Linked DNA regions of Homo sapiens: regions 2, 3, 4, 5 and 6 are each linked to region 1. The links come from fine-mapping of genetic effects on gene expression. A gene starts in region 1. Each other region holds a variant in brackets. All regions are shown on one strand. Distances are between the middles of the regions.

Region 1 (5,074 bases):
GGTAACCCTATAGGTTTCAGAGGGGAATGGGAAGATGAACCACGGTGGGCGGGAGGGCAGCATGGCCAAGGAGTTATTCTCAGAGATGAAAACTGTTAGGCAAAATCAGCAGGATCAAAGTAAAAAGGGTAGAGGTAGCTAGCTGGAGTTAAATAGTGATTTTGACCATTTTAGAAGAAGTACTCTCCCTTTGTCTTCCTGTTTCAACCACTGCCAAGAAAATAGGAACCCTGACTTAATTTCCCTATCATGGTTTAGAAGACAAAAGGTGCCCAGGTCATTTCATAGCCCCTCTCCTGAGACGTTGTTATGAGCTCTGTTGAACAGAGCACTTTGTATGGATGAGCTCAATTCTCACAACCACTCTGTATGGGAGAGGTTCTCATCCCTGAGGAATCACTTGACAAGGGTCACATAGTGATAGGTCATGGGTCTAGGTTTTGGGAGGACTGTTCTCCATCCCTTGCCCTTGAGCTTTGGGTAGTATCAGTAACCGCATCCAGGAGCCTCTGCCTTCCGTCTGCATCCACAGAGCCCCAGCTCCCACCTCTCCACTCACCAGCCCTGATGGAATAATGTCAATTCATGACCTTGCGCAACCGTGCACCTTTCAGCAATGATGTTGTCACAATTTACCTGCCAGCTGATTGCATCCAGCACTGAGTTGTTCCATTGTGCACTGGCCCAGGGACCATATGCAGTAATAACAACTACGTATTCTGCATCTATTATGTTCTGGGCACTATGCTCTGAGATTTATCTCTAATTCTCATACCAACCCTGAAAAATAAGGTGCCAGTAAATGCCATTTTACAGATGAGAAAACTAAGGTTCACAGAGTTTACCGGCCCAAAACAACACAGGCAGAGCTAGGATTCAAATCTATCTTACCTAGTTCCAAAGCTCATCCATGCTCTTCTCTCTATACCTCACCATCTCTGAACAAGAGTTCAGGCTGGGTGTAGTGGCTCACATCTGTAATCCTAACACTTTGGGAGGCTGAGGTGGGCAGATGGCTTAAGCCCAGGAGTCCAAGACCACCCTGGGCAACACAGCACAACCCTGTCTCTACAAAAATATGTAAACATTAGCTGGGTGTGGTGGCACGTGCCTATAATCCCAGCTACTTGGGAGGTTAAGGTAGGAAAATCACCTGAGCCCAGGAAGGTTGAGGTTGCAGTGCACTGTGATCGCACCACTGCACTCCAGTCTGGGTGACAGAGTGAGACTCTGCCTCAAAAAAAATAAGAGTTCAAAAGGTGATGGGGGGGCCAGATGCAGTGGCTCATGCCTGCTATCCCAGCACTTTGGAAGGCTGAGGCAGATGGATCACCTGAGGTTGGGAGTTTGAGACCAGCCTGACCAACATGGAGAAACCCCATCTCTACTAAAAATACAAAATTAGCCAGACATGGTGGCACATGCCTGTAATCCCAGCTACTCGGGAGGCTGAGGCAGGAGAATCACTCAAACCCAGGAGGTAGAGGTTGCAGTGAGCTGAGATCATGCCATTGCACTCCAGCCTGGGTGACAGAGCAAGACTCCATCTCAAAAAAATAAAATTAAAAAAGGTGGTGGTGGAGGGATCTGAAATATGAGATCCAGACACTTAGGGTCCACAGCCTCAACTTCTCCCTCAGTTCCTCCTGATCAGATGTAAGGCCCCTCCACCTTGTATGTCACTCAACAGCAAGCCCGCTTCCTTACCGTGGGCCGCTTCCAGATGATGCCTTGAGTTTGCGGAGAGCCTGGTCCAAGATCCTTGTAGCCCAAAGCTGATGGACATGCTGGGAACTCAGGGTCCTTAAATAGGACCCCTGAGTCCAAGCACTGTTGCCTCAGGGTCTTGAAATCCTGGCCCAAGTACTTCAAAGCGTTTTGGTTGGAGCCAAGACCTTGAGTGGCTGCCCGCTGCCTAGATACACCAGCTGCCTGGGCTGCCATGGCCGTGGGCTCTGTAGGGTGGACAGAAGGGCAGGGCTGCACTGTACTCTCAGACACCTGCTCCACTGGGAGGGGAGCTATAAGGCACTAAAGGAGGTGGAGCAGACAAACATTTCACCTGAGGCCCTGTTCCAGAAGGAAGTGAGTCATGGCCAGGGACAAATATGTACCCAAGGTCCAGGCCAATCTGCCCCACCTTCTTCTTCTGCCTTTTGCAAATAATTTGGGGTCTGGGAACTTTCCAGGGCCCATCCCAGGCCATTAGCCTAAGAAATCCATTAGGATCTTGACCCCACCCCGGCATTCCCTCCACACACCTCTTTGCAAGACCTGCTTACCTTGCTTCAAGCCCATTGACTGAGATGAGAAGGCTTATTGAGCAGCTTGAAGCAAATATTCATCAAGGAATTGGAGGCATGGCTCTGAGCAGGAAGAAGGCAAGTAGTTACAGGGGCCTCCTTTCCTGCCAGAAATGTTTTGGTGCATATTTCCTAGGAAGGCAAAAAATACCAGAGAGTAGTGATTCACAGGCCAGATTTGGAATAAGCCTGACTGGAGGAGGTTCCACCTGTGAGTGAACGCTTTGGCCTCTGACTGCCTCGGTTTCTATCCCAGCTCCCCCGGTAATTTGCTCTGTCATGTTGGGCAAGTTGTTTAACCTCTTTTCTCCTAAGTTTTTTTATCTATAAACTGGAAGAGCATAGGAGAGCCTACCACAAAGGGTTGTTCGGAAGAGTGATGAGATAGTACATGTCATCTGCTTAGAACAGTATGAAGTAACATTCAGTGAATGTCAGGTATCACTATTCCTTGAAGCCAGGATTCCCAGAAAGGCCTTGGAATCAGGAGCCTTGATTCCAATCTCAGAAGTGAGTTACAAGCTGTATGACCTTGGATTAGTCACTTCTCTCTGGGCTCCAGTTTCCTACATCTGGTCTACCCGAAGGATGTCAACCACACCAATGCTTTTTGAACTTCAGTGTTTGTGGCACACTAGAAAATGGTCCCCCAAGGATACCAGGTCCTCATCTTGAGAACCTGTAAATAGTCCCTTATCTGGGAAAAGGGTTTTTGCTGCTATGACTAAGTTAAGGATCTCGAGATGGGAAGATTATCCTGACCCTAAATACACAAGTGTCCTAAGAGGAAGGCAGAAGAAGATTTGACAATAGACAAAAAGGAGAGGTGATGAAATGAGGCAGGCAGAGGTTAGCGAGATCCTGCCCCACTCCAGGGAACACCAGCAGCCACAGGAGCTGGAAGGGGCAAGAATGGATTCTCCCCTAGAGCCGCTGGAGGGATGTGGGCCTTCCAACACCTCGATTTCACAGCCTTGGGACTTCTGGCCTCCAGAACGGTGACAGAATACATGTATGTTGTTCTAAGCCACCATATTTGTGGTCATTTGTTACAGAAGACGCAGGAAACAAATATAGTGTGCAGAAGAATCCCCTGGAGCACTCGCTCAAAATGCTGATTCCCTAATAGGTGCTACCACAAATCCTCCACCCCCATCCCTCCCAAAAAAGAGTTCTAATTCAGGAGGTCTGAAGTAAGACCCAGGAATCTGCAGTTTTTAAACCAGTACCACAGAGATGATGCTAATACAAGGATCCAGGGATGCCCTCTGAGAAGCTCTGGACCAGCCGACCTCTGAGGCCTCCAACTCTGACCTTCTAAGCCAATGACAGTCCACGTGTTAAGCACTTAGCTAGGTGGGTAGGTCTGAGCAAGTAGAAAGAAGGGTTGCTCCCAGGTGTTCAGAAAAACATGTGGTTTCCCAGGTTTCATCAGAAACTCAAGGCCAGGCCAGGCATGGTGGCTCAGATCTGTAATCTCAGCACTTTGGGAGGCTGAGGCAGGAGGATTGCATGAGCCCAGGAGTTCAAGACCAGCCTGGGCAACATAACAAGACCCAGTCTCTAAAAAAAAAAAAAGAAAAATTAGCTGGGCATGGTGGTGCATGCCTGTAGTCCCAGCTACTCAAGAGGCTGAGGTAGGAGGATCACTTGAGCCCAGGAGGTCAGGTCAAGGCTGCAGTGAGTCACCCACTCCAGCCTGGGTGACAGAGTGATGAAACCCTGCCTGAAAAAAAAAAAAAGAAAGAAAGAAAGAAAAAGAAATTCAAGGCCAAAATGGCCTTCAGAGGCTAAAGCTAGCCTCAGAAAGACTATGGTCCATGCCCCCTTGGGGACCCCGTCTTCCTTCCCTCAACATCACTTTCCCTTTGATTCCACATCTGCCCACTATTAAGCTCATCTAGTGTTCACAGTTACATTTTCACCGGCCCACACAGTTGACACGGTCTCACTTGGGTGGCCCCAACCACCCCTAAAACCAGAACCACAACTCCATTCAGTCAAAACAGAATGGTCATTGCAAATCTTGGCTGTGTCACTGCCAAGCTTAAAACCTCCAATGGCTGCCCACTGTTCCTGGGAGAAGAGTAAGGGGGATTTTGCACAGCCCATTAGACCTTGAGCAGCTGGCCCTGCCTACCTTTCCTCCTGCTCCATTCTCCCCTCCTGGCTTTCTTTCCATTCCTGGAATGTTGTGTTCTGTCCTGCTTCAGGGCTTGACACCTTCTGTGCCCTCCACCTGAAATGTTCTTCTCCCCACCCCAGCCCTGTTCATCCAGTAGACCTGGGTGCCCCAGAAAAGGTTTTCTGGACAACTCCACACCTCATACTAAGCCATTTTCCCCTCTTATACGCTCTCATAGCAACCTGCAAGACCCTGTCCCGCACCGATTCCTGTAATCATTTAATTAATGCCTCTCCACCCCATAAGGCTCTGATCTCCACGAGGACAATTACCCCTGTTTGTTTTACTCATTGTTGTATTCCTGAACCCTAGAAAGCTCCTGGAACATAGTAGGGACTCAATAAATATTTGTTGCATGAATATACACCTACAGGTATGAGATGTGCTGTGGATAAACGTGCACCAGGTATAATGGACCTGACACCTTCCGGCAGGGTCATTAGTTCATTAGCAAGGATCCTATGGGATTGTTTTTCTTGCCTCTTTCTCCCCTACACCTCCCAGAAACATTCCCCTTAGACTGACTAAAATGAACAAGCCCTTCCTCCATCCAATCACAGAATAAGCACAGCTGGTAATTTTCCTT
Region 2 (5,074 bases), 110 kb before region 1:
GGCAGAAGGCTGCCATGCCAGGGTCCTGCTGCCTTTCACAGGGCTCGCTTGAACAGGGATAAAGTAACAGGAACAGCAGTGATAGGATTGAACCAGATGTGCCAGAGCCAGTGTGGAAGATCCTTAAATCCTCAGCACAATTCCACAGCCATTTTCAAGTTAAGGAAGTCGTGATTTTGTAAACTGCTGAACACTGTATACATGCAACATCATTTGTCATTTTCATGTGACGTAATTGCTTGTGGTTTGTAGCTACCAAGAGGCAGAGCTAGACTTGGAAACCTAAGGTTGGTTCACCCCAAAGTGCCGGCTTTCCCCACCACACCTACAGGAGTTGGTATTTCACATAGGAGCCCATCTCAAACTGGGGGCAGAGATTGAGAGAATAGCATATTCTGTGTGCATCTGGGATAAACACTGAGCCAGAGGGAAGAGTCATCCCTTAACTCTCAGATGGAGAGCAGATCTCAGGCAGGATGACCAAGGAAATGCAGAGAAGGCGTGCTGGGCTGATGTCTGGGTCCCAGTCTCAACTCAGCCCCTTATTCATCATGTGACTTTAGCCGAGTCACTTTCCATCTTCCCATCCTCCGCTAGCCAGGCCCTGGCAATTCTACTGGAAATGAGAGAGGCAAGAGCTGCACAAAGCAGTGTCTCCTCTGAGGACAACTGGCCTCACCCCAGCACAGAGTGGTCAGTCCCAATAATAAGACCTGAGGACCTGGGCCAGGCACGGTGGCTCACACCTGTAATCCCAGCACTTTGGGAGGCCGAGGTGGGTGGATCACCTAAGGTCAGGAGTTCGAGACCAGCCTGGCCAATATGGCGAAACCCTGTCTCTACTAAAAATGCAAAAATTATCCAGGCGTTGTGGCTGGCATCTGCAGTCCCAGCTACTCGGGAGGCTGAGGCACGAGAATCGCTTGAACCCGGGAAGCAGAGGTTGCAGTGAGCCGTGCACCACTGCACTCCAGCCTGGGTCACAGAGCAACAGTCCATCTCAAAAAAAAAAAAAAAAAAAAAAGACTTGAGGCCCCTTTAAAAAGCCTCTGGGGCTAGAAGACTACCCCCATTAGCCTGCCAGGAAAGAAATGGGATGTCAAGAGTCTACATTTGGACCTTGACCCCGTCGTTCATGAGGCCTTGTACCCTCAGCCAGCTCCTTAACCTCTCTGTGCAGGCCACTTTACAAGCCGAGCAAGGAGAGTGACCAATACTGCCCCATGCAGCCAGAGAGAAAGGTAAGATAAAGTGCATGAAGAACTATGCAAATATGAGCTTTTCCTTTCATCATTCTTGGTGTTCTTAATAAAATATGGCCCTTGGCAGCTAAGGAAACAGGTTTTGTTAGCAAAAATACTGGCCTGTAAATCCATCTAAAACATAAATTGGCTCATCTTTGCAAGGGTTTTATTCAATGGCTATGCAAAGGAACTGTTCCCAGGTTTTATTTCCTGCAAGGGATTCTGATATCTTTTCTTCTATTTTATCCTTAAGTCTAGAAAGTCACCCTGAGTTTCCCGGGGTGGTGGGGGGAGACCATTGTTTTTTCCTCTTCCGGGCCCTTTTCACACACTTTATTATCCTCCAAAGAGTAACACATTCGCTGTATTTATGGGGCCGGTTTTGACATTTCAAGTCCTGGTTATGCTTTGACTTGTGGCCCCCACCGGGCTGCTACCAAAGTGAACGGAAGCCAGGGCAGGGGAGAAGGATCAGGGGTCGCTTCTTTCTCTGCTCCAAGTGCCCAAGTTGCATTCATGTCGGGCAAAGCTTGGATTCCTCAGGCTGCTGGTCTCCCAGAGGGCGGGCAGGGCTGCAGGACGGTGACAGGGAACAGGGCTAGTCCTGCACACTAATCCCAAGCCAGGTTAGCTGAGCTGCCTTCCACTGCGGCTGGGCAATCCTCACTCTGAAGGATATCTATTTGGAGAGGTTTTGCCATCCCAGCTTTTTATTCAGAGACCCCAATCTGACAGGGCCAATCTGCAAACAGAAAGGCTTTTGGCAGGACCTGGAGATCTGGCTTTTCTATTTTCTCAAGAGTCAGTCAACGCAGCAAGATAAGTAGCCTCAGGACCAATTCCCAAGTGATGAAGGAAAGGTACTC[A/G]ATCTTAAGACAGGATGGTGATGGGCACAGAAGCTGGGGGCCCCTGAGACCTGAGTCTCACCCTTTTTATGCCTAGAGACCTCAGGGAGTAAAGAATGAAGTGACCTGAGCATTCCTGAATATTCTCCTGCCCACCTGGGAAGCCATGTTCGCCCTCCACTCACCTTCCCTGCCAACTTCTCAAACAGCCTCCTGAACTGGTCATCTTCCTGATCCACCTCACTGGGATGTGGCTAAAAAGAAGGACATTTGCAAAGTTAAAATGGGAATCGTCAAGGAGAATGAAAGACGAAGATTTAAAATTCATTCCTTCATCCATTAGTATCTATGATGCACCTACTATGTGCCAGGCTTTGGGCTAAGTGGGGGCACATGGTGGCAAACCAAGAGACAGCAAAGGTCCTGGCCCCAGGGAGCTTACAGTCCAGCAGGGATGAGCAGAGAGGCAGCGCTGGGGCCTAGCAGTTTTCTCTCTAAGTGATTTGGGGAAGTGAGCCCCACCAACCCTGAATTTCTGATTACAACCTGAACAACTTTCAGAAAATGACACTGACACCAGAAAATCTTGGTGTGAATCTGTGGACTCCTAAGGGAATCACTGATAATTTTCCAGGGAGTCTGAACTCCAGAAATTGCGTGAAAACATGGGGTCATATCTAAATGCATTTTTGGCTGGGTGCAGTGGCTCACACCTGAAATCCTAATACTCTGGGAGGCTGAGGCGGGCAGGTCACGTAAGCCCAGGAGTTCGATAGTAGCCTGGGCAACACGGTGAAACCCCATTTCTACAAAAAATACAAAAATTAGCTGGGTGTAGTGGTGCACGCCTGTAGTCCCATCTACTTCAGAGGCTGAGGCCACAGTGAGCCAAGACTGTGCCACTGTATTCCAGCCTGGGTGATAAAGCGAGACCTTATATCAGAAAAAAAAAACATTTTCTTAGCTTTCATCAGATTCACGAAGAGCAACATGATTTCAAAAGTGTTGAGAACATGGCCTAGTAGAAAGAGTAGAACTAGAAGCCAGGAGACTGGAGTTCAAATAGCAGATTGTACCCTTACTGGACACTATCTCAGGGCTCTGAACATCCATGGCCTCCACTCTGTTATTGATTTAACCAGACCATTTTCATGGGGCCATTTTAGGAATCAAATGAGAGCTAATGTGGGTCAAAGTCCTTTGGAAATTACAAACCATTATATGAATGCTTCTGTCCAGAGACTTTCTGATGTGACAATGGGCTCTGCCCAAAATAGGACAATGCCCAGTTGTCACCACAAGACAGAATGGAAAAGTGACAGCTTCCCAGATGACACGAAATTTCTAGAAAGCCGGGTTAATTTCTTTCAAAACTATCACTAAGATGAGTACAAAAGGCCCAATATAGCTTGATGATGCTGTACTCATAAAGATAACCACTGTAGTAATAATACTTGTCTTTGTTGAGTACTTACTACCTGTCAGGTACTTTGCGTGGATTATTTCATTTAATATTCACCACTGTCCTGTGAGGTTCCTCTCATTACTGTCCTCACTTCACCAATGGACAAACTGGAATTTTAAATGTTACTTCATTTTAAATGTTATGTAACAGGCCAAGATCACACAGCTAGTAAACAGTGAAGCCAGGATTAAACTCCAGCCCATGCACTTCTCCACCACCCTCTGGAATGATCGTCAGAGAAGATGCTCCCTGCATCCGACTACTCTCAGCCTCTCTGGGGCTGTTTCCTCACCTGCAGAATGAGGATATTAACGCCTACCATGCTGTTTACATAGAAGATATGCTAATCTAAAAATACATCTAGATTTTTAGAAGAAAAAATGATAAACACATCATATCTCATCACACATATATGATTTTAAAGTGGTTTTATAGGGAAAACAACATTATATCATTCATGTAATACAGTATGCCAAAATCTTGGATGTCCATAAATTCCAGACATGGAGTAATATTCTCCATGTCTGGAAAAACATAAAATTGCATAGGGGAAAAACATAAAATTGCATATAAAAACTAACAACAAAACAGTATATGGATATGGACACACACAGGCACATAGCAGGCATCCCGTCACTGGGAGTTATCATTGGACACAAGGGAATTTTTGGACATTGGGAATGAGGAAAACGTGTACGTGGTTGCAACTGTGGTACTTCACAATTTGTCCATTCAAAAAAAGATTTACTGAACACCTGGCCCATGTTGGGAACTGTTCAGAACCTGCGTGTGAATGCAATGGTGAACAAGGCGTAGTTTTTGTTCTCAAGGAACGTACTATAGTGGAATTTTCTATTTCCCTGATACAATCTATATGAAAATGCTTTGCAAATGGTATGGCAGCATGGCAAACGCAAGGAATTATTTTCTTGTTATTCATTATATCACATGTTGGGAATGTCTTTACAACCCTGCTCAAAGTGAACACGGCTAAATTCCAAGAGTGTGTTTGTTCACCCTGTAATTTTTCCTTCCCTCATTCAGAGCAGGTGATTATGCTCTTTGAATGTCCAACTGTCCGTGACTTGGAGATTTCTGCAGGGAATAAAACAGAAGTTCCTAAAGGCAATAGTCCTTCCTGTCTTCTGTAAAGTACTGAGTCCCCTGAGGACATTATCTGTGTATTCTGGGGTGTGTGTGTGTGTGTGTGTCAGTCACAGCACAGTGGTGCCCTAAAGAGAAAAAGCAGGGTCTCCCTGAGACCAAGAAGATGTTGAAAGTTTACAGGATCTTGGGGATATGGGAACCCTTGAATGGCTCCATAGCCATGTCCTAGTACCTCAGAAGGGGAGGCTGGACCATTGGCCTGAGGACTCCCAGTTCATCAAAGATTCTAGGCCCCATGCTGAGCACAGAAGCCCAAGAGCTGTCAGTCATAAAGAAACCTGTGAGCTGACCACAGGGGTAACCAATGTGGACCCATGACCAGAAGAGACTTCCTGTTGCTTGGGAGCTTTAGA
Region 3 (5,074 bases), 35 kb after region 1:
ATCACCTGCCTGGGCAGGACCACCCGCTATAGCTCACAGTGAAGAGCATGATTGTGGTGTAATAACTTTATTACTACAGGCTTATTTTTGTTGTTCAGGAAATCTTGGTGACCTTTAAAACTTCCCAAGACACACAAATCATTCCAGTTGCACAAAAGGATGGAGCGGGTTATTTTCTCTCCAATGAGAGCCTGTCAACCTGTTGGTGCAGAAATACATGTGCAGGCTGTGTTTAATTGTGAGTGGGGGTTGGGCGCGGTGGCTAACGCCTGTAATCCCAGCACTTTGGGAAGCCAAGGCGGGTGGATCACCTAAGGTCAAGAGTTCGAGACCAGCATCGCCATTATGGTGAAACCCCGTCTCTACTAAAAATACAAAATTAGCCGGGCGTGATGGCAGGCATCTGTAGTCCCAACTACTCGGGAGGCTGAGACAGGAGAATTGCTTGAATCCAGGAGGCAGAGGTTGCAGTGAGCTGAGATCATGCCACTGCACTCCAGCCTGGGTGACAGAGCGAGACTCCTTCTCAAAAAACATAAAAAGTGAAAATAAAAATAAAAATCGTGAGTGGGAATAGACTAGGAGAAGCCCCCAAATTATTGTATCTTCATAAAGCCAAGCTCACACTTGGGAGGCTGAGGCAGGATAATTATGGAGGCCAGGAGTTCCAGACTAGCCTGGGCAATATAGCGAGACCCCATCTCTACACACACACACACATATACACACACAAATTAGCTTGGCATGGTGGTAAATGCCTGTAGTCCTAACTACTGAGGAGGCTGAGGTGGGAGGATCACTTGAGCCCAGGAAACGGAGGCTGCAGTGAGCTATGATCATGCCACTGTACTCTAGCCTGGGTGACAGAGCAAGGTCTTGTCTCTTAAAAATAAAAAATAAAAAGCCAAGTTCTTCTCCATCAGGGCCTGCTTCTGAAGAGTGGGCAAGCAGGACCATGGGCCTACAGTCCTGCTATCAGAAGAAGTTCTCATGGACCCTGGAACACCTGTGATGGGGCTCAGGAGCCTCTCCACCAGAGCTGCCTAGAGCCCTACTCCTTCCCCACCAGCCTGACCACCACACTCACCTCTTTCACCCTTCACTTCCAACCCCTCCAATTGCCCTTACAAGGTCCTATAGCAGCTAGTCCCTCCCCACCTCTCGGCCTCACCTCTGGCCTCTTCTGGCCCTTGACAAAGATTCTTTGCTTGACCAAACTTTAGTGAGCCTCCTGATCCTTTCCTAGGCCCATCTGTGCACTTCCTTGAAAAATTCAGTTTTAACGAGGACCCTGCTAAGTCAGTTTAGCTAGAACCCCTCAACACCTTGCTATCTGATCATCCCCAATATCTAACTGTGCTCCTCATCCTCCACCATCTAGGTGATGTCCAATGACCCTGTCCTGTCTTCAGCAAGACTCGGTTAGGGGGTTTAGCCAGAATCCCCCTTATTCTTTACGTTTACTCTTAGTAATTATCTGTCACTGACCCCCACTCTGCTTCTTGGCTATGCATTCCCACCTGGCCGTGCCATATTCCGAGTTGAGCCCAATCTCTATCCACCCCGCAAAACCCCATTGCAGTGGCCCCTATGCCTATTGCAACAGTCCTGAATAAAGCCTTCCTAATCATACCTCAACAAGTGCCACCGAATAATTTTTTCTTTTCTTTGACACCAATCTCACATTACTACCACCACCCTCCCCCAGGACCCTACTCCCAGAACACACTCAACCACCCCCATCCCTACATAGAATGCTCAGGGCGCCAAGGGGGCGTCCAGGGACTTCATGGTTTCTAGCACTTTGTAGTCCACCGAAATGCCCCCAGGAGTGGCAATCAAGTGGAGAGGCTGGGCTGTGTGTTGATGGCCAGTCTGGTCCCAAGTAGACCCCATAGAGATGTCCTGGGCCCTTCATCCCCCCTCCACACCAGCACCAGCACCCACAACTTAGGGACAGACCAGTCAGCCCCAGAGAGAGAGAGAAAGAGAGAGAGGGAGGAGGGAGCAACAAGAAATGCTTGCACAGCTCTGTTCTGCAACATTCTTATCTTTCTCCTAGAGGAATTCAAGCATTAAACCCTGGGGGAGGAATCTTCTGGTTCTCTTGTAAAGGAGGGTACACTCCACCCCACCCTAAACTCAGACATTTGAAGCAATCCTAGTGGATAGTAAATCTGGGCTCCTCAAAGTTCTCAATTCAGGGACTCCTTTAGCATGACACAGGGCCCAGGGAGCATTTCCCTCACCCTAAATCAATGATTCTGACATCAAAGATGCCAACAAGTTTTCCCTGGGAACGCTTTGTGCCTATGACCCTTCGTTCAACAAACCTTTACCAAGCACCCACCAGGTGCCAGGCACTATGCCAGGATCACAAAGGTGAACAAGAAAGACATGGTGTCTCATTCAGAAATGGATGGGCTA[GC/G]GGGGAAATGGACACTAAATATTTGTATCACCAGGTGATACGCGCTCTCACAGAAGTTACATAAAACGTGCCAAGATGACAGCTCTAATTATTCACTATTGTGCTTTTCAGTTTATATTCAAGTCCACATTGCAGAATACATGTTAGAGAGCACTTATGTCTTGACATGACTTGCACTTTTGATCAGTCCATAGACTGCTTGAGTGGAAAGAAATTCCTCTAAGACACTCCCTTCTGAGTATGAGTCAGAAAGCTGAGGTCTCCCCAGCATAGCCGGGTCAGGGGCAGGGTGACAGGGCCTCCCGACACACGCAGCATCCAAGCAGACTGAGCAGAGCCTGCAGAGCGGGCAGCAGGATGGGACCTCTCCCGAGAGTCTGGAAGCCCCAGCTGGCTCCGGCCCTCTCTAGGGCTGCGGGACCCTCCCTTCTCTGGCCTCAGCTTCTTAGCTGCCTTGGTTAGACTGGACAGGAGGAGACAGCTCTGCCCTCCTTTCCACCTCTGAGCTTATGCTCTTGTGAGTCTCATTCTTGCCATGAAGAATTGAAGAATCTTTGTGCTCTGAGTCAGAAGCTATGTGGCCGCTTTGCTAAAATGTGACTCAAACACAGCCTCAGCCCTGAGGCCCCTTTCATTATATTCCCTTATTTGGTCCCAGGCAGCATTTCCATATTCTCTCTGGGGAGCTGGTGGGCAGAGCCTTTCTGTGGGCCAAGGAGGAGCTCAGGTGCCAGACACTCAGACTCTGATGGCTCTGTAGCTAACTGGCCCATCCTCAGAGACTAACGCAAAGGAACGAATTTCCAGGATGTTCGACTATGTGGAGAAAACAAAAAAAAAGCAAAGAAAAAAATATTTTTAAAGAAAGAAAGAAGGCCAGGTGCAGTGGTTCACGCCTGTAATCCCAACACTTTGGGAGGCCGAGGCAGACAGATCACCTGAGGTCAGGAGTTCAAGACCAGCCTGGCCAACATGGTGAGTCAATACTAAAAATACAAAAATTAGCCAGGTGTGGTGGTGCACACCTGTAATCCCAGCTACTCAGGAGGTAGAGACAGGAGAATCACTTGAACCCAGGAGGTGGAGGTTGCAGTGAGCTGAGATCGTGTCACTGCACTCCATTCTGGGCAACAGACTCCGTCTCAAAAAAAAAAAAAAAAAAAGAGAGGGAAGGAAGGGAGGGAGGGAGGGAAGAAGGAAGGAAGGAAGGGAGGGAGGGAGGGAGGGAGGGAGGGAGGAAAGAAGGAAAGAAGGAAGGAAGGAAGGAAGGAAGGAAGGAAAGAAGGAGGCTGGGCGCCGTGGCTCACGCCTGTAATCCCAGCACTTTGGGAGGCCGAGGTGGGTGGATGATTTGAGGTCAGGAGTTCAAGACCAGCCTGGCTAACATGGTAAAACCCTGTCTCTACTAAAAATACAAAAATTAGCTGGGCCGTAATGGTGCACACCTGTAATCCCAGCTACTAGGGAGGCTAAGGCAGGAGAATTGCTTGAGCCTGGAAGGTAGAGGTTGCGGTAAGCTGAGATCGCACCACTGCACTCCAGCCTGGTTGACAGAGTGAGACCCTGTCTAAAAAAACAAAAAAAAAGAAAAGGAAAGGAAAAGAAAGAAAAAGATGGGAAGAAACAAAGGAAGGAAAATAAACTACATTATATGGAGAATTATTTGGACACCATCAAACTTCCACTAGCTGTCCCTGAAAACCGAAATTAATATGCTAAAAAATTACTATCTCTAAGTCCATAGAAAAGTCTCCTCTGTATATACATCAAGAAGAGAGCAAAACGGGGAGGATAGGACATAACCCACCTCCCAGAGAGAGAAGCAGCCCGGCCAGTGGAAGTGTCCTGGTGATATTCCCCCAAGCACTGCTACATTTCCAAGTGGCCCCTGTGACTGGAAATTAGAAGCATAGGAGTTATTGACCTAGGTAGATTTTGAGGCAAAAAAATCCACAAAGGTACAAGAAGAGGAAGGAGAGGAAGGAGCTGGTGAAGGAGATTGAGAAAGAACAGCCAGGAAGGTGGAAGAAAAACCAGGAGAAGGAGGGGTCCATGGAAGCAGAGGGAAGAAAGTAAGGGAATGGCAACAGTGGCAGTGGCAGCTGCTGGACACAGAGAGTAAGAACTGAGAAGGTTTCCCTGGATTTCGAATCAAGGAAGTCATTGGGGACTGTGACCACTGCACTTCGCAGGGTGCTGACAAGTAAGGCTTAGAATGTTCATTTTCTCCCCCATTTGCTCTGCAAACCACATTGCCCCTGTCTAGGACAGAGGTTCCCAAAAGCAGTTTTGCATTCAAATGCCAACTCCACTACCCACTGACTGTATAACCCTGGGTGACTCATTGAGTATCTTGGTGTCTCAGTTTTCTCATCTGTAAACATGGAAACAATGACAAGACCTATCTTATAGGGCTATTCTGAGGATTAAATGAGTAAATATGTGCAAAGCATTTGATTTTTTTTTTTTTTAGATGGGGGTCTCTCTATGTTGTGCAGGCTGGTCTCAAACCCCTGGGCTCAAGTAGTCCTCTCACCTCTGCCTCCCATTGTGCCGTGCCTGGCCATTTGCAAAGCACCTGAGATGAGGATGTGTTCTCTCCAGGCTGCTCCAGCCAATGACAACACAGTAGAGGTACTGGGCTGG
Region 4 (5,074 bases), 120 kb before region 1:
AATCAGACTGATCCAGGGCCAAAGCATGTGTGTGTGTGTGTGTGTGTGTGTGTGTTCTCCTTGATATTTCATGTCTGCATAGAACAACCAGCTATGCAGACATAGAGTTTGCTTTGAACAACCAGCCCTGTCCCCATTCCTCCCTTAGGGACACCATGGCTGTGCCATCTATTTTCTTACTAACAACAGAGATGCCAGCATTCAGCTGTGAGCAAAACTAACCTGAACTGCCTTTCCCCTCTAGCTATTTGCCAGGTAAGAATTCTCCTCAGTACAGTCCAGCAGTCTCCCATGTCTGCAAATAAGGAAGAAAGCCCTGTTCTCCCAGCATCCCATCCCTGCCCCCTTCCTGGGCTCCTTTCCTGAAGGTGGCCTCCGGATGCATCTCGGTCCACAGAAGACTTCTCCTCTGAGAAATTAACCTACACTTTGTATCTTTCAGCAGTTTTGAGTTGTGCCATTTCCCGAGAACATCTTCTTTCCCAAAGCATAAAAAGCCCAGGATACAGCCCAGATAGCATATCACGAGAGAAAGGTGGAAACCATTCTGGCTCACAACTTTAATTGATTGCTTTCCCTCCACTGGGCCCACCGGGTCGGCTTACATAGCTCATAGCTCAGTGCTGCTGAAATAGACCCAGGGCAAGAAAGGTATGAACAACCAGTGAATGCCACTGGAGCATAAATGTTCACAAAATTGTAGAGAAGGGGTGACAAGAAGCAAGCAGTGGGGCAGGGAGTGTCACTGATGTCCGAAACCCCGGGTCAGACCAACACGCAGCACAGCCACTGCAAAGGAAAGGGACAAGATTGAGTCTTGGCTTCTCAGGGGCTGGTGTGCTTTCACCATTGATGCTCTCCTGCCTCACATGGGTGCGATCTTTTTATCTCCATTCTCCAGTAAGTGCCTTGCTCAAACATGGGAAGCAAGGAAGGCTTTCACTATATCACTAACTCCTGAACCAGGGTACTACAGAAATGTGACTCAGAAAAAGCTCTAGACCCAAAGGGAGCTCCAAAAATAGGTATGTGCATGTATATTCATACACACACACACACATACATATATACACAATAGTGTATACTATTATATACACACATATATATACACTATATATGTGTGTGTATATATATATCCCTATAGATTCCTATATATGTGTACATATCTTTTCCTATATATGTATTTGTTTCTATATGTGTATATATATATATTCCTATATGTGCATATTTGTGTGTGTATATATGTATATTTTATGCACCCACACAACCACACTCCATTTTAGGTTCCACACTATTGTCCAGGTATCTGTGGGAATCCACAGGTCTATTTCTAGGAAGGCCTTTCCTGGGCTACAGGAAAGAGGTCAATAGCATTCCCACTTTAGAGAAGAAAAGAAAGTGGGTAAGCACAGACAATGGGGCACAGCCAGTAATAACCTGGCCCTCTAGTTCCACCGCCTCAGAATCAAGTCAAAGGCCAATGCCTCCCCCTGCCTGGACCCTTGGAGACATCTCCACACTTCCTGCTGTCCCCTCTGGCCAGTAAAGGCCTCTGTCGTACAGGGGTGCAGTGTCCACGGGGGAAGTACTCTGATTTTTTCTGCAAAAACATTATGTGACTTGTACACAGTAAAAACACTTGTTCATTTTGCATCTTCATTCTACCCACTGCAATTTCATTTTTGTTTCCTACATCCTTCCATAGGTCCATATAAGACAGCTGGTCCTAGAAGCCAGACACTTTATATTGTGCCCACTACCCACAACTCCATCCAAATTAACAAGGGCTTGCATCTCCGAAATTATCTGAAATGTAGCTGTAGCTTTATCTTTACGATCATAATAATAATAAACAAAAATGTTTGGAAAACTGTATAACAGTTGCCTTCCTCCCTGCTGGGTGCCTGCCACAGAAC[A/G]TGCATGGTATTCACATGGAACTAAGACAGCCAACAGGAATAAGCATCACTTGGCAGCTACATGGTCCAAGAATTTCAGAGTACCATCAGCCAGCAATTCATCAAACCTCAGGACATTCACCTCGGCCAGAGAGAGCTGAACCATGCCATCCTTGTCTTCGTCCAGAAGGCTGAATAGTTCTAAAACACCAGAGAAGGAAATGAAATTAGATAAGGCTGTTCCTGGACTTTGGAACAATCAGAGAGCTGCCTCTGTCTACCCCATCCCCACCTGCGGAACTCTCCTTTCCCCTACCACCCCCTCCCCTCCAGCCCCCACCTAGGCCCAGGGGCCTCAAAAAGCTAGATCCAGGGCACACAATGAGCTTTTGGGGGATCAGATGCCCCCCTGCCGAAACAGACAAACCCCGTTGCCAGCAGAGATGGTCCCTTTGGTATCTCCATCCTCAGAAGCTTTATATCAGAAACGTGCAATTACTTTATCAAGGTCAAACAGATTGTGGTTGTCTTGCTTGTGGGTAATCCAGTCCCTTAGCTTTGTCTCTGGCTAACTGACCTTGACCCACTAGAACGTAACACCTACCAAACCTCAGTGGAAGGAAAAATCCCTTCCTAATAAGATATCTAATCTCAAGGCCCAAGATGGCAGAAAAACGCCTATTGCCTTCAGAGGGCACCCCCCATCCCTTCATTGGAAGGTGGCACATGTTCTCAATATGATCCCTATTGAAAAACAAATATAAATAGACACTAAACACCATCTAAGAACAGTTACTGTGACTCATTCATCTTGGCCTAGTGACTGCACACTGTAGATGCGCAATAGTCTGGATGGCAGCTTTGTTAAGTCTCCAAAAAAGGCATCCTCCGTCCTGGATCTGGCCAGCCTGGACTTCCTCAGCCCCTTCAGGTCCAGCTGCCCCTCGCCCCCAAGGTGCCAGCATTCCAGAAGCCCTGTCTATCATTTTCTGGGTCCCTGGCCTCCTAAAGGCAATGTCTGGTTCTGCCCCTTGGCCCTGCCCCTGCCCCACCTTGCACCTTGGGATTAATAGGATGGGGCTGGAGGACAGAGTGACTCACTGAAGAGGGTCTCCAGGCGGATCATACAAGCCACGAAGCTGTCAAAGTTGATGCCAAGCTTGCTGCACGCATACCGCAGGGCAATGGTCTGCTGCACCTGGCTGTTGAGGGTGAAACCTGAGGGCAGAGGGAGCCTGGGTCACAGGTAGAGTGGAGGACTCAGCACTGTCTCCCATAAACACTCAAGGAGCTGACATCCCAGGGGCCCCTCTGTGGTTCTGTATCAATCTGCAAACCAGGCCTGACTCTGCCTTCTCCAGGGGATCCCAGAAGGTGTCCTGCCATCCATCCCTCTCCTTGTAGCTACTCCTCACCAAGATCAGCCTAATTCCAGGTCCAGCGCTAGTACCAGCACCAACTCAGCCATGGGTCACATCAGCAAGCAAAAGCAGAGAAGGTGAGGGGGCTGCCTGTCTGGCCAGTTCCTGTCTGTCTCCTTCATAGCCCCTTCCTCTGTAATTGCTGTCACCTTCCCAGTAACAGGCAGAGATCTTGGAAAAATTCTAAAATATTATGCTATATGGAATCGAGCAATATTCTCCCCTTCCTGGACAGGGAAGGTACTCAACAAAGCTCTGTTGTTGCCTTGATATCCCATATAAGAAAGCTACAAATGATGATCATTAGCAATCATCATCATGAGAATAAATATTTACAATGTGCACACCTGGATCCCAAGACCCTGTCTACAGGATGTGTCCTCACCTGCCTTCCTGAGGGCTGTCCTCATCTCGTGGGCATCGATGGTGCCCGAGTGGTTATAATCAGTTTCCCAATAGATCTCCTAAAGCAGGAAAGAAATCCCAAGTAGAAAACAACCATTCACGGCCCCTGCCAGAACCATCTCCCTCCACCACACTGCTTTCTCAAAAGGCCAGGGACACTTTCAAAAGGAGACCCTATTGACTCCTCCCAAGAAGGTTTCAGAGCAAGCATAAGAGCTTGGCCAGTGCTGGCCCCTTTGCTGTCTGAACAGCAGGGCTTTCAGGGCAGTGGTTGGCATGAGAGTCTCTCATTGCCTTCTTGTTCCTTCATGACCAATGTGCCCAGGACTCAATAGTTTTGACCATGATTAAGGATGTGGTCAGAATACAATGGACCAGGAATGAGTGTAAGGGAGGATTAGAACAGAGGAGAGGATGCCCAGAAGGAAAAGAGAGTTACCAGATACTTCTGAATCTTCAGCCAGAGCGTCTTGAATTCCACCGCCCCCAAAGTGCCCGTTCCATTGCTCTAGGCACATTAAAGACCAACATGATTGAGTCCAAATTCTACATGCCTTATAGATTTCTTTCTCTTGTGAGCTTGCATGAGTGCCTTAAGGCCTTAGTGAACCTTCCATGTCTGTGGCAAGCAGAGCAGTGGGGGTGACGGTGTGTAACAGGTTCAAATAAAGATTAAAAAGTCAAACGTGCACCAAGGCTCTCCTCTGAGGCCAGGCACAGAGCTAGGAACAAAGGGCAAGTCATGAGCTGGCCAATCTGCAATATCGTGAATACCCTAATCATCCTGGTTTATTTACAGGGTGGAGCTGTATGATCTGTAAATTCGCTTCTACATTTACATTTCTGTGATTGATCATTCAGCTAATTAGAGTTTGTTGGAATGTCAAAATGTTATGGGAAAAGACATCAGGAGCCAGGAACCATGGGACTGGGAGTCTAAGCCACAGAATCTGCTCATAGGCCACTATACAACCAAACAGGAGGATATTATGAGGGATTTTCTGTGTCCAACTTACATTCACTCCACAACTTTTTTTTTTTTTTTTTTTTTTGAGACGGAGTCTCTCTGTCGCCCAGGCTGGAGTACAGTGGTGTGATCTCAGCTCACTACAACCACTGCCTCCAGGGTTCAAGCAATTCTCCATGTCAGTCTCCCAAGTAGCAGGGATTACAGGCACCCGCCACCATACTCCACTAATTTTTTTTTTTTTTTTTTTTTTTTAGTAGAGATGGTTTCACCATGTTGGCCAGTCTGGTCTTGAACTCCTGACCTCAAATGATCTGCCTGCCTCAGCCTCCCAAAGTGCCACGACTATTTTTTTTTAACGCTGTGCTAGTCAATAGGGATTTAGT
Region 5 (5,074 bases), 46 kb after region 1:
GTGTGCACCTGTAATCCCAGCTACGTTGGAGGCTGAGGCAGGAGAATCGCTGGAACCCGGGAGGCAGAAGATGCAGTTAGCTGAGATCGTCAAGATCCTGTCACTGCACTCCAGCCTGGGTGACAGGGTGCTACATCTCAAGAAAAACAAAAACAACAACAACAACAACAAAAACAATGAAAGGCTAGACCCAGATCTTCTGGAAGGAGATGCTCTAAACCAGGGTTTCTCAGCCTCTACATGACTGATGTCTTGGACTAGATCATGTTTTGGGTGGAGAATGTAAACCAAAAATAAAATTCTAAGCCTCCCCCTCCCCTACCCCCGCCAACCATCTAAATGGATGGTTCCTCCTTAGCCGAGGCTCTTAAAATTTTAACCTGAAATTTTCAGGCCATGAAGGAAAGGCAAGGTCGGACATGCTTCATTATACCTCTCCAGCGTGAACATCAACCAGAGTTTAGGTCTGATAAGAAACATTTTACTGCCTGTTCACTCTGAAGCCTGCTAGCTAAAAGCTTCATCTATGTGATAAAACTTTTGTCTCCACAACCTCTTATCGCAACCCAAACATTCCTTTCTATTGATCCTGGGCCTTTAGACAAACTCAACCAATTGTCAACCAGAAAATGTTTAAATATTTACCTATATCCTGGAAGCCACCCCCACTACCCACCCACCACCCCCCGCCACTTTGAGTTGTCCCGCCTTTCTGAACCAAACCAATGTATTTCTTAAATGTACTTGACTGATGGCTCTTGCCTCCCTAACATGTATAAAACCAAGCTGCACCCCAACCACCTCGGGCACATGTCCTCAGGACTTCCTGTGTCACAGGTGTGCATCTTCAACCATGGCAAAAGAAACTTTCTAAATTAAATGAGACCTGTTTCAGATTTTCTGGGTTCACAAGAGCTATCTTGGACATTGGAAGATGTTCAGCGGCATCCCTGGCTTCTACTTAGTAAAGGCCAGTAGCACCTCATCTCCTAGCTGTGACCATAAAAACTATCTCCAGACATTCCCAAATGTCTCCTGGGGTGGGTAGGGGACAAAACTGCCCCCAGTTGAGAACCACTGCTGTAGACCATGCACAGTTTTCCAGTGAAACCCAAATTCTTCCCTACTACTGTAGAGAAGAAGAGGAGGTAATTTCTGCCCATCTGCATTTCTTGGCACGCACCCATGTCTCTGTGTGTGAGATGAGAATCACACCCTAGCTCCACAACAGAGTGGTCACAGTAGCCAACACAGGCAGTATTCTAAATGCTCTCTCCCTATAGTAACCCAACTAATCCTGCCAGTTAAATATGAGTTTCAGGTAAACAATGAATCATATTTTCTTTTAGAATAAGTATGTATGCCCATGCAATATTTGGGCCCTACATATACTTTAAAAGTATCTGTTGTTTATCTGAAATTCAAATTAAACATTTGGGAGGGTTGTTGTTTTATTGGCCAAATCATTTTATTTTATTTTATTTTTGATATGGAGTTTCGCTTTGTCACCCAGGCTGGAGCGCAGTGGCGCGATCTCGTCTCACTGCAACTTCTCCCTCCTGGGTTCAAGCGTTTCTCCTGTCTCAGCCTCCCGAGTAACTGAGATCACAGGTGCCTGCCACGACGTATTTTTAGTAGAGACGGAATTTCACCATGTTGACCAGGCTGGTCTCGAACTCCTGACCCCAGGTGATCCGCCTGCCTCCGGCCTCCCAAAGTGTTGGGATTACAGGTGTGAACTACCGCACCCAGCCTTATTGGCCAAATCTGACAACCCTATCTATAATCAAATAAACAGCTGAGCAGTAGTAATTGCAGCATTGTGATTGCAATAGGCCTCCGGTGGCTTAGAGTCCCTGTTCTGCCTGTGACTGTTGTGCCACATTGGGGACGTCATTTAGCGTCTCCGAGGCTCAGTTTTCTCATCTGTAAAATGGGGACAATATCAGCGCCTTCTTCAGAGTCGCTGGGAGGATTAAATGAGATGATGTATGCAGAGCCGTTAAGACGCTGTTTGGCACAAAGTTCAGGGCAGCTGGTTTAGTTTCCTCGACTTCACTACCTGACCCTCTGCTAACTCCCCGGGTGTTTTCCGGACGGCCACAACTATCCTAGCCTTCTTCCCTATGGGCTGCAAAGGTGGCCTCGGGTTCCGGTGGGAGCCCCAACTCTGGACCGCGATTCGCGAGCCTCCCCGGCGCCGGGCCGCGCCATCCCGGGAGCTGTCCGCAGATGGCAGCACCGGCCCCGGGTCGCGGCGTTCCCGGCGCTCGGCAGGCCGCAGGATGGCCTGGTCCCGGGCCGGGAGCCCAGCAGGCCGGGAGCGGCTGAGGCCACACCCCGCGGGCCGGGCCGCTTCCCTCCGGTGAATCATCGCTCGCAGCGGCGGCGCCCGCAGTGGCCGCAGCAGCGCGCCGGGCCCTGGCCGCGCCCCAGCCGAGCGCAGCGCGGAGTCGCCCCGACCTTTCTCTGCGCAGTACGGCCGCCGGGACCGCAGCATGGCGGGCATCGCGGCCAAGCTGGCGAAGGACCGGGAGGCGGCCGAGGGGCTGGGCTCCCACGACAGGGCCATCAAGTACCTCAACCAGGACTACGAGGCGCTGCGGAACGAGTGCCTGGAGGCCGGGACGCTCTTCCAGGACCCGTCCTTCCCGGCCATCCCCTCGGCCCTGGGCTTCAAGGAGTTGGGGCCCTACTCCAGCAAAACCCGGGGCATCGAGTGGAAGCGCCCCACGGTAGGAAGCGCGCGGCAGGACGCGGGCAGGGC[G/A]GGGTGCCGGGCAGGGCGGGGTGCAGGCCGGCCCGCGGCGCGCTGGGGCGGGGGGCAGCCCGGGTGCTGCAGTGGGGAAGCCGCAAGCCAGGACCTCGCAGTCCTGCGACACCTCCGCGCCGCCAGAGCCCGGGACTCTGTTCGAGCGTGGGGGGACTCCCGGGGCCTTCCCTCTCTTCCACCCACCACGCTTTCCTGGGCGGGTCGAGGCGAATCACTGCCCTCAGATCCCACTAGCAGGCCACTTTAGGACTTCACAAAAACTCAGGGTGATGCAGGAGGCCGGGGTGAAACTTTGATTGGACTCTAGCGGGGAGCTGGAAGGGAAGGGGAATCGGGTCTGCAGGGAAGGGACGGTGAGAGGCAGCATCTACCAGACAAAGTCCGTCTCCAACTGGGGTTCTGTCTGTTCATGGAGGGGGACAGGCCATAGCCTGGTCATTTTGTGACTAAGGATAGTCTCCTGCAGCCCTGGGGTTAGATTTATTTTTCCAAAGGGGAGCCAGCGATACCTCCTCATAACATTGACACTGGTAATTAACCCAGGACACGGAGGTGTCTCATGGTTTCCCTGGCGGGAATCACCCGGGAAACCTCCGGGAGCCCTCCAGACCCCCTTATCCCGTCCCCCAGGGTCTCTGACCTCCCGGCCCTGGGACAACTTGTGCTCCCCAATCTACTTGTCCATTCTGTTTCTTGGGGAACCCCTGAGGCTCCTCCTCCTTTGGGACACTTCCCCAGGCTTCCCCTACCACGCCTAGGAAAGCCTGCCCTGAAGTCCAACTTCTAGATTCCTGTTGTGAGAACAAGGCTTCCAGCTCTGCTTCCACACCCAGCAGCCTCCCAGGTCACCTTCTGTTACCCTAAATCCAGCCCATAGGTAGCAAGGGCTGCAGGAAGCGCCCTAGCCCAGACTCAGAGCACTTGGGTTCTTCTTCTTGCTAACCTGCTGGTGACCTTGAACGAGCCATTTAACCTCTCTGTGCCTCCATGTCTTCATCTAAAAGAAAACATGCTGCCTAAATATTTTCTCTCTTTTGTGGCCCACTAGGCCCTGCCGTCATGGCCTCCTTTCAGTCTCTCAAAGAGCCGGTTCTTTCCTGCATGAGGCCTTCTCACCAGCAAGGCACGCTGTTACCTGGAGTGTGGCTCACTCTCATTCTTCCCAACTTAGTCACATGTTCCCTTCCTAAAGAGGTCTTTTCTGACCCTTCTTAGCAGCCACCTCCCCACCTTGTTTTTCTCTGTCACCCCACTCATTTCCTTCATAGCATTGTCACAGTTTAGAATATAATCACATGTATTTGTTCTTCCTACTGAACTGCAGGAATCATGTGTATATTATTTACCAGTATATCCCCAGTGCCTGACACATAACCATGCCTTTCACAGTATTCATTCATTCATTCATTCATTCATTTACTCACTCATTTGACAACACTGATTGAGCACCTGTTACATGCCAGGCACTGTCCTGAGAGCTCAGGAGATACACCAGTGAACACAAAAGAAGTGACTGTTTGTAGAATATGGATGCAGGATTGTAATGTGCCTCAAATGAAATTATGGTTGTGAAAGTGATACGCTGACCTGACTCAGTGCCTCACACCTGTAATCCCAGCACTATGGGAGGCCAAGGTGGGAGGATCGCTTGAGCCAGGAGTTCAAGACCAGCCTGGGCAACACAGTAAGACTTGTCTCTATAAAAAAGTAAAAAAAAAAAAAAAAAAAGTGAAACACAAACCAAGAGAATGTGTTCACTTTACATTTGCATGGCACTTTACAGTTTACATAGTGAGTTCACATACTCATTCACTTATTCTTTCATTCATTCAGTAAGCATTTCTCGAATACCTACTATATGCTGGGCACAATGCATATGGTTTCTGCTTCTGAAGACTTACTTCTGAGGCTAGTGAGGGGACAGAGACAGGTCCCCCAACAGTTGGAAATGCCTGTGGGACTTCCAGATGAGGATGTAGAGGTCTAGAGATGATCTAGCGCCACTGCTTAGGGCAGGCGGGCTGTGCACTGCACAACTAAGGAAGAGTGTGACTTTTACGATCCCCATTTGCCAGTTGAAGAAATTGAGGCTTGGGAAGGTTAAATACTTGCTCAGAGTCAAGTGGATATAGGGCATAGATCCAGGACTGTGTGTAGTCTGTGCATGTTGAGCCTACCCCTTATGGCTGCGCTCTCTGCCTCCTTCCTACCTTCTCAAATGCTGCTGAGGTCAGGCAAGGGGAGCACAGTTGTTTCCGCTGGATTTGAACACTAGCAAGTCATTGGTGAGTTTAGCAGAGCAAT
Region 6 (5,074 bases), 25 kb after region 1:
GATCCTCCCACCTTCACCTCAAAGTGCTGGAATTACAGGCGTGAGTCACCACACGAGGTCAATCTACTATTCTTGACCTCAGCTATTGGCTGTGATATATTATCATATATAGAGAGCTGGATTTGGTTTGCTACTGTTTTCTTCAGAAGAGAAAGCAGGATGTTGCTCAGCCTGGGAGGGTCATGCCCTTGGTTGAGTTAGCTCTCTGCAACTGAAACAAACTCTAAAGGATTTGAGACCTGGAAACTTTCTGCTAATCCCACCTCCCAAAGTTGGGGCAGTTCACATCCAATGACTGATAGAAGTAAGGTATAAAGACACAGACATTTTGGCTTAATCTAGCATCTCTGATGGGCCGTGTATGGTCCAGAACATCCCATAGGAATGGCCAAAGCTTTGTCACAATTGCATCACATTTTGACTTTTCCCTCTGCCCAAGACTGCTTCCTCCTCCTCTCATCCACGGATGTTGATTCCTAATAAATACTCTGTACACCAAGCACAGTCTCGGCATCTACTCCTGGAAAACCAGCAACAAGGTCAGCAGGGCTAGCTAGCTTCATGGGCAGCAACCTATGCAGTCATAAGGGCCCTGCTCCAAGAGGGGCCCCATGCTTAGGTTAATACTCTTGTCAACTAACGAGTGGTGAGGTTCATAAATTTTGAAATAAGAGGTTTATTTCTCATGAAGTGTTGCAATCTGCAAGGTGGCCATTCCTACAGGCTGGGAAGTGTAGCCTGTGACAGAAGTCAGAAGCAGGTACTTCGAGGCAGGGATGGATAAAACAGGAATGTATAATGAATGGCTTGGCTAAGTATACATATTTAGTACACAATAGGAGGAGTCATGAATATTTATGAAAAGAGAAACATGTGCATGTGCAATTGGGCTTCATGCCTCTTTATGCGTCACATGTTCAAAAAATGATGATGCTTGCATGATCCAAGGGTGGAGTTTTTGGCCCTCTGACATCAAAAGGTGAAACAGAGAACACAAAAACCATCAACGTGCATCTTCTGCAAACTGCTGAGAACCACTCTGTGGTCAGTGATCTCTTACCAGGAAGGAATGCTGGTTAGTTGCTGTGTTAAAACCACAAAAAGGCCAGGCACGGTGGCTCACACCTGTAATCCCAGCACTTTGGGAGGCTGAGGCAGGTGAATCACGAGGTCAGGAGATCTTCAAAACCATCCTGGCTAACACGGTGAAACCCCGTCTCTACTAAAAATACAAAAAAAATTAGCCGGGCTTGGTGGCGGGCGCCTGTAGTCCCAGCTACTCAGGAGGCTGAGGTAGGAGAATGGCGTGAACCCAGGAGATGGAGCTTGCAGTGAGCCAAGATCACGCCACTGCACTCCAGCCTGGACAACAGAGCGAGACTCCGTCTCAAAAAAAAAAAAAAAAAAAAAAAAACCACAAAAAGGAAGGGGGAGTCCAGTCATGGCCTCAGATGACTGGCTAAAGGCAATGAAGTAGAGTCATCTGTATCTTGTTCCCCAGGGCTGATTTCCGTGTACTCCTTAGGAAAAATTTCTGGTTAAAGATGAATAAGGATAGGGCATATTGAGGTGTATCTGACCTCCCATCCCCTTATGGCTGGGAACTCAGTTTTTAAGGTTCCTCTGGGGTCCACTTGGCTGAGAGGCACTCCATTCAGTCGGTTGGGAGGCTTAGGATTTTATTTTTATTTCTTACTCTGCTGTCATCATCTTGAAAATATAAATTTTGGTGCTCACTTCAGCAGCACATATACTAAAATTGGAATGATACAGAGAAGATTAGCATAGCCCCTTTTTAAAAAAAAAATATATATATATATAAATTTTGATGGCTTTAGAAATGATTTGCAGAGAAGTGAGTCAGAAAAATCTTATGACCAATCAAGATTTCACATTAATAAAGTATTATTATCCATTGTATTATATAAATTGGTGAAACAAAAAATGGTACATTTTTGCAATTTGTAGGTTTAGTCATTACTCATATATCACTATTATCCCTATTACATTTTATAAAAATTGTTTTTTTAAAAAAAAGCTTTATATTTTAGGGGTTTGTTCGTTTGTTTGTTTTGAGACAGAGTCTCACTCTGTTGCCCAGGATGGAGTGCAGTGGCACGATCTTGGCTCACTTCAATCCCCACCTCCCAGGTTCAAGCGATTCTTGCCTCCCAAGTAGCTGAGAATACAGGCGCCCCACCACCGTGCCCGGCTAATTTTTGTCTTTTTAGTAGAGACAGGGTTTCACCATGTTGGCCAGGCTGGTCTTGAACTCCTGACCTCAAGTGATCCGCCCACCTTAGCCTCCCAAAGTGCTGGGATTACAGGCGTGAGCCACCGCACAGGCTTTATATTTTAGTATTTTAATTACAGTTTTTTTCCTGCATTTTTAACAAGATAAGCACATTTTCATTTTG[C/T]ACCCAGCGCTATAAATTATGCAAATTACATACCCAGCAGGGAGGATAGGTTCCTGTGAAGATGATTGTCCCTGGTTGTCCTGTAGGAGTCTAGGAGAGAAGAGTGACACTTTAAGCTATTATCTGTTATTTGCAACTTCATGTGACTGACTTTCAGATACTTTGATGAAAGAAGACTTTTAAATGTGTGAAAAAGATCTCCTCAGGGCACTGCATACAAGGAAAACAGGGAGACTACCATCAAGGTGGGAAAGGGTGATACAACAGGGCCAGGGACCTGATGATAAACTCCAGATTTCACCAAGAGTTAGGCTTTGTTAGAATCCTGTTCCTAACAGGACACAAATCACACAGCGAACTATTAAAAATGAGAGCAAAGCACACAGCACAACTATTAAAAACTAAAAATTAAGCTGTCATTTATATGAGTCATTAACAAAACTCCCTTATCACCAGAAGTATGCTAACACCATATATAAAATTGAACATGTGGGGACATCATTCAACCTCTTGTTTAAAACTGGCTTTGAATGGCCCAACTCTAGAGAATTAGAATGCTTTTTATTATCTGGGGTCCTCTGGAGAGAGATCAACTTCTCAGAGTTCTAAATAGAGAAAATTATCTGGAGTTAATTAAAGTACGCCAATACTGTCATTTTCCACGTGGGGTGGAAAGAACTAATGTGTAGTTAGGATATCAGCAAAAGGCTAGTAGAAACACGAAGTCACTGGTAAATTGAATGCACAACTCCTGGGAAGTGATCAAAACGCAACTGTTTTGTATATTCTGCTACTTGTCTGTTTGTTATTTCTATTATATGTCTATGGCCACCTATACAAAAAGTGAGGGCCCTATTTTCATGTGAAAGGAACCGCCACAGTTAGAAACACTCTAACAAAGGGTAGTGGAGTAAACCAAGCCACTCCTGTTCTAAACAGATTTTAGATTCAGAAAGAATCGCTCTCTCTTTTTTTTTTTTTTTTTTTTTTTTTTTTTTTTGGAGAGATAGGATCTAGCTATGTTGGTCAGGTTGGTCTTAAACTCCTGGCCTCAGGCAATCCTTCCTTGGCTCCCAAAGTACTAGGATTATAGGCGTGAGCCACCACGTGCCCAGCCAGATTCAAAAAGAATCTATTGAATAGGGGGGAAACTAAGTAATTCAAGAGACTTTGTCTATAGCATTTTGACTATATCTTCTCAGTAAGGACAAAACGAACTATAAACAAACATTGAACCCTAACCTAGTTGGTAGTTGTAATTTTCATGGTAGTATGGGTTTGTGATTCTAAAACTACTTTCTGTGTATTCTTGAATTAAATAAATAAATAAATATATTCAGAAGGATGAAAGCAATATCTCTCACTGTTGGAGAAGAGAATTACAAATATGGAAAGAGGGAAGGTTAAAATAAATCACATTGTGGTCATTTGGAATTGGAGGCCAATTTAAATTCAAGTGGCAGGGTATAATTTTTTTTTTTTTTTAGATAGTCTCTGTCACCCAGGCTGGAGTGCAGTGGTGCAACCTCAGGTCACTGCAACCTCCACCTCCCGGGTTCATGCAATTCTCCTGCCTCAGCCTCCTGAGTAGCTGGGACTACAGGCATGTGCCACCATGCCCAACTAATTTTTTGTATTTTTAATAGAGATGGGGTTTCACCATGTTGGCCAGGCTGGTCTCGAACTCCTGGCCTCAAATGATTCACCCACCTGGACCTCCCAAAGTGCTAGGATTACAAGTGTGAGCCACCACACCCAGCTGGGTATAATTTTTTTTTTTTTTTTTTTGAGACAGTTTCGCTCTTGCTGCCCAGGCTAGAGAGTGCAATGGCACGATCTCGGCTCACTGCAACCTCCACCTCCGGGGTTCAAGCAATTCTCCTGCCTCAGCCTCCCAAGTAGATGGGATTATAGGCACCTGCCACCACGCCTGGCTAATTTTTGTATTTTTAGTAGAGACAAGGTTTCACCATGCTGGTCAGGCTGGTCTCAAACTCCTGACCTCAGGTGGTCCACCCACCTTGGCCTCCCAAAGTGCTGGGATTAAAGGAGAGGCTCTGCACCAGCGTGGGTATAATTTTTTATGAGTTAAAATTGTATTTTATTTATTTACATTTATAAAGAGAGCATTATGTTTAGATTTATGTACCTGGTTTTTTAAAAACTCGTTTACCTAATTAATGAGAGAATGAGTGGGATGGTAAAGTTGGTTTCAAGAGAACTTGAGAGATTAAGTATTATAGGCACTGAATAAAAGATGTTAAAATAGAATTTTGGGGTGGTATACAAAACTGGTTAATGTTATACAGGGCAAGAAGACTATAACCTTTGGGATTTAGGGTTTTTGTTTATTTGTTTGGTTTTTATTTTTTATTTTAGCTTTTGTTGTTTTATTTTTTTTCCCTGAATGAAATTATTAGTAGCTATACTAGACAAAAATCTACATGCTAGTATGTAACGTTATGGTCTTGGCCCCATTCAATAGTGAATAACAAATCAAATCAAGGTACATTCTCCTAAAGAATAAGAAAATTCATCCTGGCATGGTGGCTCACACCTGTAATCTCAGCACTTTGGGAGGCCTAGGTGAGCAGATCACCTGAGGTCAGGAGTTCGAGACCTGACCTGGCCAACATGATGAAACCCCATCTCTACTA

Evidence for each region.
Region 2: its variant is fine-mapped to the expression of CAPN8 in whole blood (TOPMed, PIP 0.97).
Region 3: its variant is fine-mapped to the expression of CAPN8 in whole blood (TOPMed, PIP above 0.99).
Region 4: its variant is fine-mapped to the expression of CAPN8 in whole blood (TOPMed, PIP 0.97).
Region 5: its variant is fine-mapped to the expression of CAPN8 in whole blood (TOPMed, PIP above 0.99).
Region 6: its variant is fine-mapped to the expression of CAPN8 in whole blood (TOPMed, PIP above 0.99).

Annotation. Positions count from the first base shown.
Region 1 is chr1:223,663,703-223,668,776 of GRCh38, forward strand. It overlaps CAPN8 (calpain 8), which reads right to left and starts at 1,999. Exons shown (of 21, transcript NM_001143962.2): 1 at 1,708-1,999. The coding sequence starts at 1,944.
Region 2 is chr1:223,551,558-223,556,631 of GRCh38, forward strand. It overlaps CAPN8 (calpain 8), which reads right to left. Exons shown (of 21, transcript NM_001143962.2): 14 at 2,275-2,343. Among named protein-coding and RNA genes, the nearest start is that of CAPN8, 110 kb to the right of the region's middle. The variant A/G (reference allele first, on the strand shown) is at 2,111.
Region 3 is chr1:223,698,429-223,703,502 of GRCh38, forward strand. The region is part of intron 1 of LOC105373281 (a long non-coding RNA gene); the gene reads right to left. It also overlaps a transcript of CAPN2 not described here. Among named protein-coding and RNA genes, the nearest start is that of CAPN2, 12 kb to the right of the region's middle. RefSeq lists an enhancer at 2,658-3,504. The variant GC/G (reference allele first, on the strand shown) is at 2,428.
Region 4 is chr1:223,541,071-223,546,144 of GRCh38, forward strand. CAPN8 (calpain 8) reads right to left here. Exons shown (of 21, transcript NM_001143962.2): 17 at 4,161-4,229; 18 at 3,702-3,780; 19 at 2,997-3,113; 20 at 2,038-2,096; 21 at 546-789. The coding sequence ends at 766. Among named protein-coding and RNA genes, the nearest start is that of CAPN8, 120 kb to the right of the region's middle. The variant A/G (reference allele first, on the strand shown) is at 1,917.
Region 5 is chr1:223,710,143-223,715,216 of GRCh38, forward strand. CAPN2 (calpain 2) reads left to right here and starts at 2,397. Exons shown (of 21, transcript NM_001748.5): 1 at 2,397-2,735. The coding sequence starts at 2,499. RefSeq lists enhancers at 1,994-2,043, 2,083-3,034 and silencers at 2,144-2,533, 2,744-2,863. The variant G/A (reference allele first, on the strand shown) is at 2,768.
Region 6 is chr1:223,688,322-223,693,395 of GRCh38, forward strand. It overlaps LOC105373281 (a long non-coding RNA gene), which reads right to left. Exons shown (of 3, transcript XR_949164.2): 2 at 2,451-2,507. It also overlaps the pseudogene RNU6-1248P. Among named protein-coding and RNA genes, the nearest start is that of CAPN2, 22 kb to the right of the region's middle. The variant C/T (reference allele first, on the strand shown) is at 2,418.